Linked DNA regions of Homo sapiens: region 1 is reported to be linked to region 2. Evidence: microRNA targets listed by miRTarBase, many of them from high-throughput screens and not tested one by one. Region 2 holds a microRNA gene; the other region holds the end of a gene's coding sequence.

Region 1 (4,385 bases), not on the chromosome of region 2:
GCCCTGGTGCGAAACTGCGTGGACATTGCCACATCTGAGAACCTCACCGACTTCTTGATGGAAATGGGCTTCCGCATGGACCATGAGTTTGTTGCTAAGGGACATTTGTTCCGTAAGGGCATCATGAAGATTATGGTGTACAAGATTTTCCGCATCCTGGTGCCAGGGAACACAGACAGCACTGAGGCCTTGTCACTCTCCTATCTCGTGGAATTAAGTGTGGTAGCACCCGCTGGGCAGGACATGGTCTCTGATGACATGAAGAACTTCGCAGAACAGCTAAAACCTCTGGTTCACCTAGAGAAAATAGACCCCAAGAGGCTCATGTGACTAAGAGGATCTGTCCACATTTGGGGCCTATCCTTACTTGTTTGAAAAAATATGTTTGCTTTTTTTGGTTTTTGTTTTGTTTTGTTTTTGAGACAGAGTCTCGCTTTGTTTCCCAGGCTGGAGTGCAGTGGCACGATCTCGGCTCACTGCAACCTCTGCCTCCTGGGTTCAAGCAATTCTCCCACCTCAGCCTCCTGAGTAGCTGGGATTACAGGCACATGCCACCATGCTCAGCTAATTTTTGTATTTTTAGTAGAAATGGGGATTCACCATGTTGGTCAGGCTATTCTCGAACTCCTGACCTCGTGATCCACCCACCTTGGCCTCCCAAAGTGCTGGGATTACAGGCATGAGCCACCACGCCTGGCCAAAAAAATATGTTTTAAATGTCCCATTTCACCATTGCCAGGCAGGCATTCTTCCTTCAGGGAGAGGATGGTGAGAATTAATTGGTTCTTTGCACTGTTCTCCTCATGTGGCGATTTCACTTTCATGACAGCCTTTCTATATTAAAGGCTCAGGATGTCACGGAGAATCTATCTAATCCCACTGTATTAAGAGGGGAAACCGGGCCAAGCGCAGTGGCTCACACCTCTAATCCCAGCACTTTGGGAGGCTGAGGTAGGTGGATCACCCAAGGTCAGGAGTTTGAGACCAGCCTGGCCAAATGGTGAAACCCCATCTCTACGAAAAATACAAAATTTAGCCGGGCATGGTAGCAGGCGCTTGTAATCCCAGCTACTTGGGAGGCTGAGGCTGGAGAATCGCTTGAACCCAGGAGGTGAAGGTTGCAGTGACCAGAGATGACGCCATTGCACTCCAGCCTGGGTGAGAAGAGCGAAACTCCGTCTCAAAAAAAAATAAAAATGAAGAGGGGAAACCAGAATAAATTATCTTTTGGAAAGGACAATTTCTTGTTTGGCCATTTGTGTATAAGGTTGGTAACATTAGAGGCTGTGAGCTTGTGTTACATGGTAATAAAGCCAATGAAGAGACATGTCTGTGTAATTCTGATTCTTTATTCCCTTACCCTGTAAATTTGGGGTAGATTCATTACCAGTTGAAGCAAAAAAAATGACAGTTCCTAGTTTTAATTGTGGCAGAGATGAGGATGAGAGTTTTCACCTTTCATAAAAGTAGCATATTTATTGTTGAAAACTTTTAAAATATAGTACAGATAGAAAATAACACCTATTATCCAAAGAGAAGTACTAGTTCTATTTTGGTATATATCCATCTAGTCTTTATTTTTTTATAAATTTATGTATATGAAATGTGTTTATTTTATAAAAAGATTCCATATATACTGGTTTATAACCCTTTTTTCCCATTCATCTATCATTAACATCTTTCCAGGACATTTGTCTACACTCCCCTTTTGTTAAAAAAAATTTTTTTTTTTTTTTGAGACAGAGTTTCGCTCTTGTTGCCCAGGCTGGAGTGCAGTACTGCGATGATCTCAGCTCACTGCAACCTCCACCTCCCAGGTCCAAGTGATTCTCCTGCCTCAGCTTCCCAAGTAGCTGGGATTACAGGCATGGGCCACCATGCCCGGCTAATTTTTTTTTTTTTTGAGATGGAGTACAGTGGCGCACTCACGGCTCACTGCAAGCTCCGCCACCCGGGTTCACGCCATTCTTCTGCCTCAGCCTCCCGAGTAGCTGGGACCACAGGCGCCCGCCACCACGCCCGGCTAATTTTTTGTATTTTTAGTAGAGACGGGGTTTCACAGTGTTAGCCAGGATGGTCTCAATCTCCTGACCTCGTGATCCGCCCCGCTCGGCCTCCCAAAGTGCTGGGATTACAGGCGTCAGCCACCGCGCCCGGCCTTAATTTTTTGTATTATATTTTTTATTTTCGAGAAAGGGTCTCACTGTTGTCCACGCTGGAGTGCAGTGGCATTGTGTTTTTAAGAAACGGTGTTTCGGGCAGGGCGCGTTGCTCACGCCTGTAATCCCAGCATTTTGGGAGGCCGAGGTGGGCAGATCATGAGGTCAGGAGATCAAGACCATCCTGGCTAACACGGTGAAACCCCGTCTCCACTAAAAATACAAAAATTAGCCGGGCGTGGTGGCGGCCGCCTATAGTCCCAGCTACTCGGGAGGCTGAGGCAGGAGAATTGCTTGAACCCGGGAGGCGGAGCTTACAGCGAGCTGAGATCGCGTCACTGCAGTACAGCCTGGGCGACAGAGCAAGACTCCGTCTCAAAAAAAAAAAAAAAGAAGAAGGAAACGGTGTTTCACCATGTTGGTCAGGCTAGTCTCGAACTCCCTACCTCAGCCTCACCAAAGTACTGGGATTACAGGCATGAGCCACCGCACCCGGCCAAAATTTTTTTCTTTTTAAAGCTAGTTTATTGAGTTCCTGTTATGTGTCAGTGCTATCCTAAGTGCTTCAGGTATGTTAAACCCGTTTTGTAAACAGGAGAACTGGTACATATAGATTAATTAACTTTCCCTGAGCTATACAGCTACTGATTGGCAGAGCTGGTATTTAAATATTGACAATTATAATTGCTATTTCTATTTCATCATATGGATTTGCTATAAGTTATCTAATTGAATCCTCTATGATTTTCAGTTTGATCCCATTTTTTTTGCTTTTATAAGCTGTGTAACAATAGAGCTTTTATTTATTTATTTTTTTGAGACAGAGTCTTGCTCTGTCGCCCAGGCTGGAGTGCAATGGCATGATCTCAGCTCACTGCAACCTCCGCCTCCTGGGTTCAGGTGATTTCCAGCTAATTTTTGTATTTTTAGTAGAGAGGGGGTTTCACCATGTTGGCCAGGCTGGTCTCGAACTTCTGAACTCAAGTGATCTGCCTGCCTCAGCCTCCCAAAATGCTGGGATTACAGACATGAGCCACTGTGCCTGGCCTGATATGTACTTGTTACTCTATGTAAATCTAACTCATAACTTCCAACTTGCATATGCTTTCATACTAATAAAAGTATTAGTGTTTAAATAGTGTTTGCTCCATGACAGGTACTTTATTTTTATTATTTATTAATTCATTTATTTTTTGAGACAGAGTCTTGCTCTGTCACCCAGGGTGGAGTGCAGTGGTGCCATCTCGGCTCACTGCAACCTCCTTCTCCCGGGTTCAAGCGATGCCCCTACCTCAGCCTCCTGGATAGCTAGGATTACAGGCATGTGCTACCACGCCCAGCTAATTTTGATTTTTTTTTTTTTTTTTTGAGAGGGAGTTTTGCTCTTGTTGCCAGGCTGGAGTGCAATGATGCAATCGCAGCTCACTGCAACCTCTGCCTCCCGGGTTCAAGCGATTCTCCTGCCTCAGCCTCCCGAGTAGCTGGGATTACAGGCGGCCACCACCATGCCCAGCTAATTTTTGTATTTTTAGTAGAGATGAGGTTTCACCATGTTAGCCAGGATGGTCTTGATCTCCTGACCTTGGGTGATCCACCTGCCTTGGCCTCCCACAGTGCTGGAATTACAGACTTGAGCCATCGCACCCAGCCATGACAGGTACTTTAAATGTTTCAACTCATGTACTTCTCATAACAACTGTATGAGGGTTGTGAGTTGTTATTATTTCCATTTTATAGATGAGGTTATACAGAGAGGTTTCTCAATTTTTTTTTTTTTTTCAGATAGTCTTCTCACTCTGTTGCCTAGACTGGAGCGCAGTGGCACAATCACAGCTCACTGCAGCCTCGACATCCCAGGCTCAGGTGGTCTTCCAACCTCAGCTTCCCAGGTAGCTGGGACTACAGGCATGCACCACCACACCTGGCTAATTATTGCATTTTTTTGTAGAGATAGGGTTTCACCACGTTGCCCAGGCTGGTCTAAAATTTCTGGGCTCAAACAGTCCGCCTGCCTTGGCCTCCCAAAATGGTGGGATTACAGGCATGAGCCACTACAACCAACTTCAAATTTCTTTTTTCTGTTGTCCAAAGTCAGAACTAGTAAGTGGTGGAGCCTGAATTTCAAATCAGGCAGATCATCTCCACAATCTAGACACGTAATCACTGTGTATCCACCATGTTTTATTCATTTAGTCCCTTTATATCATAGAAACCTAGATTGCTGCT
Region 2 (4,385 bases):
TGTGTCCCACCGGTTCCTCCCCCACCCGTTGCTGGCGCCTCCATACACTTGGATGCCTCCTACACATCCCGCATCACCCAGACCTGGTTGCTGTCCACCCGGTAGCCGTGCCTCAGGGCGAAGATCTTCCCCAGTGAGATGGCAATGGCAAACCCAACCACAGCGATGGTGAAGGCGCTGCCCACGAGCTTTGAGAACAGCTGGGTGTTGGGGGCCACTGGGGGCACCAGCCTGTGAGAGGTATCTGTGAGGCCAAAGCAAGGTCCTGTCCTGGCTGCCCAACCCTCCCTGACCTGATGGAGGCCAGAGCTCACCCTGCAGGGATGTTGCCCACGACATCTACCTCAAATCTGTGCTTTAGACCCATGCCATAGGAGATGCCTGTGGCCCCGATGAGCTGTGGGAGAGGACAGAGTCAGGGAGGCAGGTGCTGGCACCATGGTCAGGGGGACACATAAACCACTGTGAGGTGAGGAGGGAGATACTGGGCAAAACCTTCTTCGAGGGTGGGAAAAAGTCACGTAGGGTGAGAGACAGGCAACACCATTTCGGCTATGGGGAGATGCTGTCAGGGGCAGGAAGAAACCAACATAGGGGCTTTCTGCTGTGCCCCCCACAATACCCAAGAACCCTCCCAGCCCCCCTCCAGCTGGCCCTCAAATACAGGAGGCTGCCCACGTGGCAAGGACCCAGCCTGACCTGCCCTTCTCCCCTGCCCTCCACTCCCTGGCCCTCGAACCGTGAGCAGCTCCCCGGGTATCGGCATGGGCAGCTGCTGCTGCAGCTTGTCATTCAACAGCTTCACCACCACGAGCACCACCCCAGCCACAGCTGCAGTGACCACGGTGCCAACCTTGCTCTGGGGCAGCTTCCAGCAGACCTCCAGCACTGTCTGAGGAGAGGCCAGGTCACAGCTAGCACTCAAGGCCATGGGGCACACCTACCCCTCCCTCCCCCTACCCTCACTCACATAGATGAGGGACAGTGGCCCAGAGTGGCTGCTCAGATGGAGGCCAAACACATACTTGAGCTGTGAGACGAAGACCTGCACAGCTGCAGCTGTGGTATAGCCTCGGACAAGAGGTTCTGACAGGTAGGTGACCACGAAGCCGAAGTGGATCAGGCCCAGCCCCACCTGTGGGGCGGCCAGGGGCAGTCAGGAGAGGCAGGGGTCCTGGGGTTGCTAATGAGGAGCGCAGGGCAAGTGGGATGGGAGGGGGATGAGTAGACGGCAAGAGGAGGACGACGATGGTCAGACACTCAGGGGAGTACAGACAGGACAGTGGCGGGAGCAGAAGTGGTGGTGGGGGGCACATACTCCTGACTGTTCCACACCTGGAAGAGGCCAACCAGGACACTGAGTGTGGAGGCCACCTGTACCCGGGCAGCATCTCTGGCTGTCTCATTGATCATGGAGTCGTTCAAGGCCTGCGGGGCCAGGGATTCTGTCACACTGCCCACCATCACAGACATGACAGCAAAGGTCCCTGTAAGGACGGCACGGGGCAGGTCTGAAGAGGAGAGGACACTGCCCTGCCCTGGAGCCCTGGTCTTAAGAGAGAGGCCAGGAGACTTCCAGTTCTGGATAAATGTACTCAGATTATGGCTGCATGAACAGGGACAGTGCTGGCGGTTCAGGTTTGGCCAGGCCAGGAGTAAACCCTGAGCTCACAGGCCCTTAAGCATGGCTAGAAATGCTGGCCCTGTCTCATCTACCCTGTCCCACCTGTGTCTACTGGTCCCGGGACACAGAGGCTCTCTGTGGAGTAGGGAAGGGGTCAGGGCTGGCCTTAGGCTGCTCAGGCCTCTGCCAAGTTCCAGGCCCCTTGGGCTGCCTCACCCACTCTCATCTTCCTGGAGCCAGGGCTTTGAGGTCACCTGCCTCTGTGGTCCTACAGTCAGGGGTCTAGTCCTGCCTGGGGATGACTCGTGGGCTAGCCCAGGGATGCAGCACCAATGCTGCCCTCTTCCCCAGCCGCTCCTGCCCTGCTCAGTGCCCCCTCACCCTGCCCTCCATGATGGATGTGGGCATCCTCCTGGAAGGCTAGGCCTGCCTCCACTTACCCACGGAGATGTGCCGGGAAGTGCCAAACAGGAAGTAGATGAAGACAGGGTAGAAGGAGCTATAGAGGCCAAACACGGGGGGCAATCCAGCCAGGAGGGCGTAGGCCAAGCCTAGGGGTAGAATGGTAGCAGTGCAGGCCTGGAGAGCAGATCTTGAAACGATAAGGGAATCCCAGCCCTGGGTTAGGTGCCATAGTTCCAAGGTAGAGGTCATGGCCCCAGTTTTGGGCATCACAGACCACAGGGTTTCCAGGCCGACGCACTGAAGGTGGCTCACCCTGCGGAAGCTGCATGATGGCCACACTCAGGCCGGATAACAGGTCACCCAGGAGCCAGTCACGCACAGGATACCGGGGTAACCAGACCAAAACCGGGAGGTGTTGGAGCAGAAGGGCATAGGCCCGAGCACGGGAGCACCTAGGGACATGATATGAGGGGTAGGTGTCAGGAACAGGGGCTACCTGGGCCCCGCCAGCGCCCCCAGGCCCCAATCTTGGCCTTACTGCAACCAGGTCCGCCACTGGTGGGTCCTAGGTGCTGAGCCCCAGCGCCCCAGCTCCTCCAAATGCTCCTGGTTCAGCAGCGGCCGTTCCATGTGGTAGTCTCGCCTCCGCAGGTCCATTGCTTGTGTTGCAGACAGCAGTGCCTGTGTGTCCCTCGGTCTGGGGTGGCAAGACCAGAGAGACACAGTGAAGGCATCCCTGGCCCAACCTCCCCTACACCTCCACCTAGGACCAGAGAGTTACCTACCTGATTTTTCCAGGCCCTAAGATCAAGGTACAGTATTCCAGCCCCCAGCTGGCATCTGTGGGCCACATGTCCAAACTCAGACAGGGGCAGTACCTGAACTTTGGCTGGTGAGAAAGCCTCTTTCTAGGACAAAGTCCCCCAAGTAGGGACTGCAGGATGAGCACTAGCTATACCTCCAGCCGAGATGTGGCAGCCCAGTGCTGAGTGTTCTACCAGTCCAGGTCCCAGGCTGCTCCCTCCCCCACCCAGTCCCTCTCCAGTCCCCAGGTCCTCCTCCAGCTGCCCCGGGAGCCCACTGCTGGCTGAGAGCACACTCAGGGAAGGGGTCCAGCAAACCAGGGGTCCAGCTCCTCAAGCAACTCCTTTCCCAAGCCTCAGGCCTCAGATGAGACCCTCCCCTCTAAGGGAAGGAAAGTGTTGGAGCCAAGCTTGCCCCTGGGCCTCCAGCCCCAGGGTCCAGGTTGTAGACGGCTCAGGCCTGTTATGGGGAAGCCAAGGACTGGCTCTCACCTGAGAAGGAGCTTGCTCTTGGAGTGGCAATCTCTCACCTAGAGGGAGAGGCTCCCACATGGAAAGGGAAGTACCCACTTGAAGTGGGGGAAAGAGCTCACCTGGGAATAGAAGCTTTCAAGGGGAATCTCACCTAGAGGGATCTCTGACCTACCAGGGAATCTTTATCAGCCTGGCAAGTTCTGATACAGGGGGAATCTTCCCTCTGCCCAGAGGCACCTACTTGAAGTCAGAGAAAGATCTCACATGGGAAGAAAAGACCTAGAGGGAGAGGGTTCTCACCTGGGGGGTACTCTCCCATAGAGAAAGCTCTGACCTCGGGCGAGGCTCCCACGTGGAATGGGGAAAAGCTGTCACCTGGGAATAGATCTCACAGAAGGATCTTACCTGGGGGAAAACTCTAGCCTGTTGGGGAAGCTTTCACCAGTCAGGAAAGTTCTGATCTAGGAAAAGCCCTGACCTGGGGAGAGGATCCCATTTGAGGGACAGGAACTCACCTGGGAAGCGCCTCTAACCTGGCTGTACTGTTGGAGGAGTGTGGAGTGGGTGCAAGGAAGATCCTCAGAGACTCTTGGGACCGCTATCTCAAGGAGATCGTAGAGCCCCCTCTCCTTTCCTACGTGAGTCACTCAGGTCTTCTTAAAGGGCTCCCTCCCCCGACAACTTGGGACCCGCGTTTGGAGGGCGGAGCCTTGATCATTGGCCCCTCCCTGTAGGAAGGCAACTGGGGCCAGAAAGGCCGGAGCGCTCACTCCGGGATCAGTGGAGCTGGGTGGACTCGGGACTCAGCTGAAAGCAGCTAGTCCACGGGCCGCTGCCAGGGACTCCCGTGCCCCACGCACCCCCGCCGGCACATCTCCTGGCCGGGCTCCTCCGCACGCAGCTGCCTCCCTGTGGCCCGGGATGGCCCTCGGGCGTCACACCAGCGGCTTTCCGCACAGCCCAAGGGACTGGGGTCGCGCCGGCTCCCGCCCCCACCCCTTGCTGCAGAGGGGCAGCCGCCTGCAGAAAATCAGCAGAGGTAAACCGAGGCGTCGCAAGCGGAGAATGCCTGCTCCAGC

The links. The annotated mature microRNA hsa-miR-6824-3p reads UCUCUGGUCUUGCCACCCCAG and lies in region 2 at 2,727-2,747, opposite strand. An mRNA with a match to its seed (bases 2 to 7 or 8) in the 3' UTR can be bound and repressed. Matches are read on the target gene's strand: a 7mer-m8 pairs with bases 2 to 8, a 7mer-A1 pairs with bases 2 to 7 and ends in A, and an 8mer does both.
Region 1: the mRNA of MED18 is a reported target of hsa-miR-6824-3p. Seed matches in the 3' UTR shown: 8mer at 1,127-1,134.

Annotation. Positions count from the first base shown.
Region 1 is chr1:28,334,641-28,339,025 of GRCh38, forward strand. It overlaps MED18 (mediator complex subunit 18), which reads left to right. Exons shown (of 3, transcript NM_017638.3): 3 at 1-1,325. The coding sequence ends at 330. Among named protein-coding and RNA genes, the nearest start is that of MED18, 7.8 kb to the left of the region's middle.
Region 2 is chr3:48,630,910-48,635,294 of GRCh38, forward strand. MIR6824 (microRNA 6824) reads right to left here and starts at 2,789; the gene lies at 2,727-2,789. It overlaps SLC26A6 (solute carrier family 26 member 6), which reads right to left. Exons shown (of 21, transcript NM_022911.3): 2 at 2,568-2,726; 3 at 2,342-2,481; 4 at 2,065-2,175; 5 at 1,336-1,487; 6 at 971-1,135; 7 at 740-892; 8 at 315-397; 9 at 84-231. RefSeq lists a silencer at 3,991-4,090.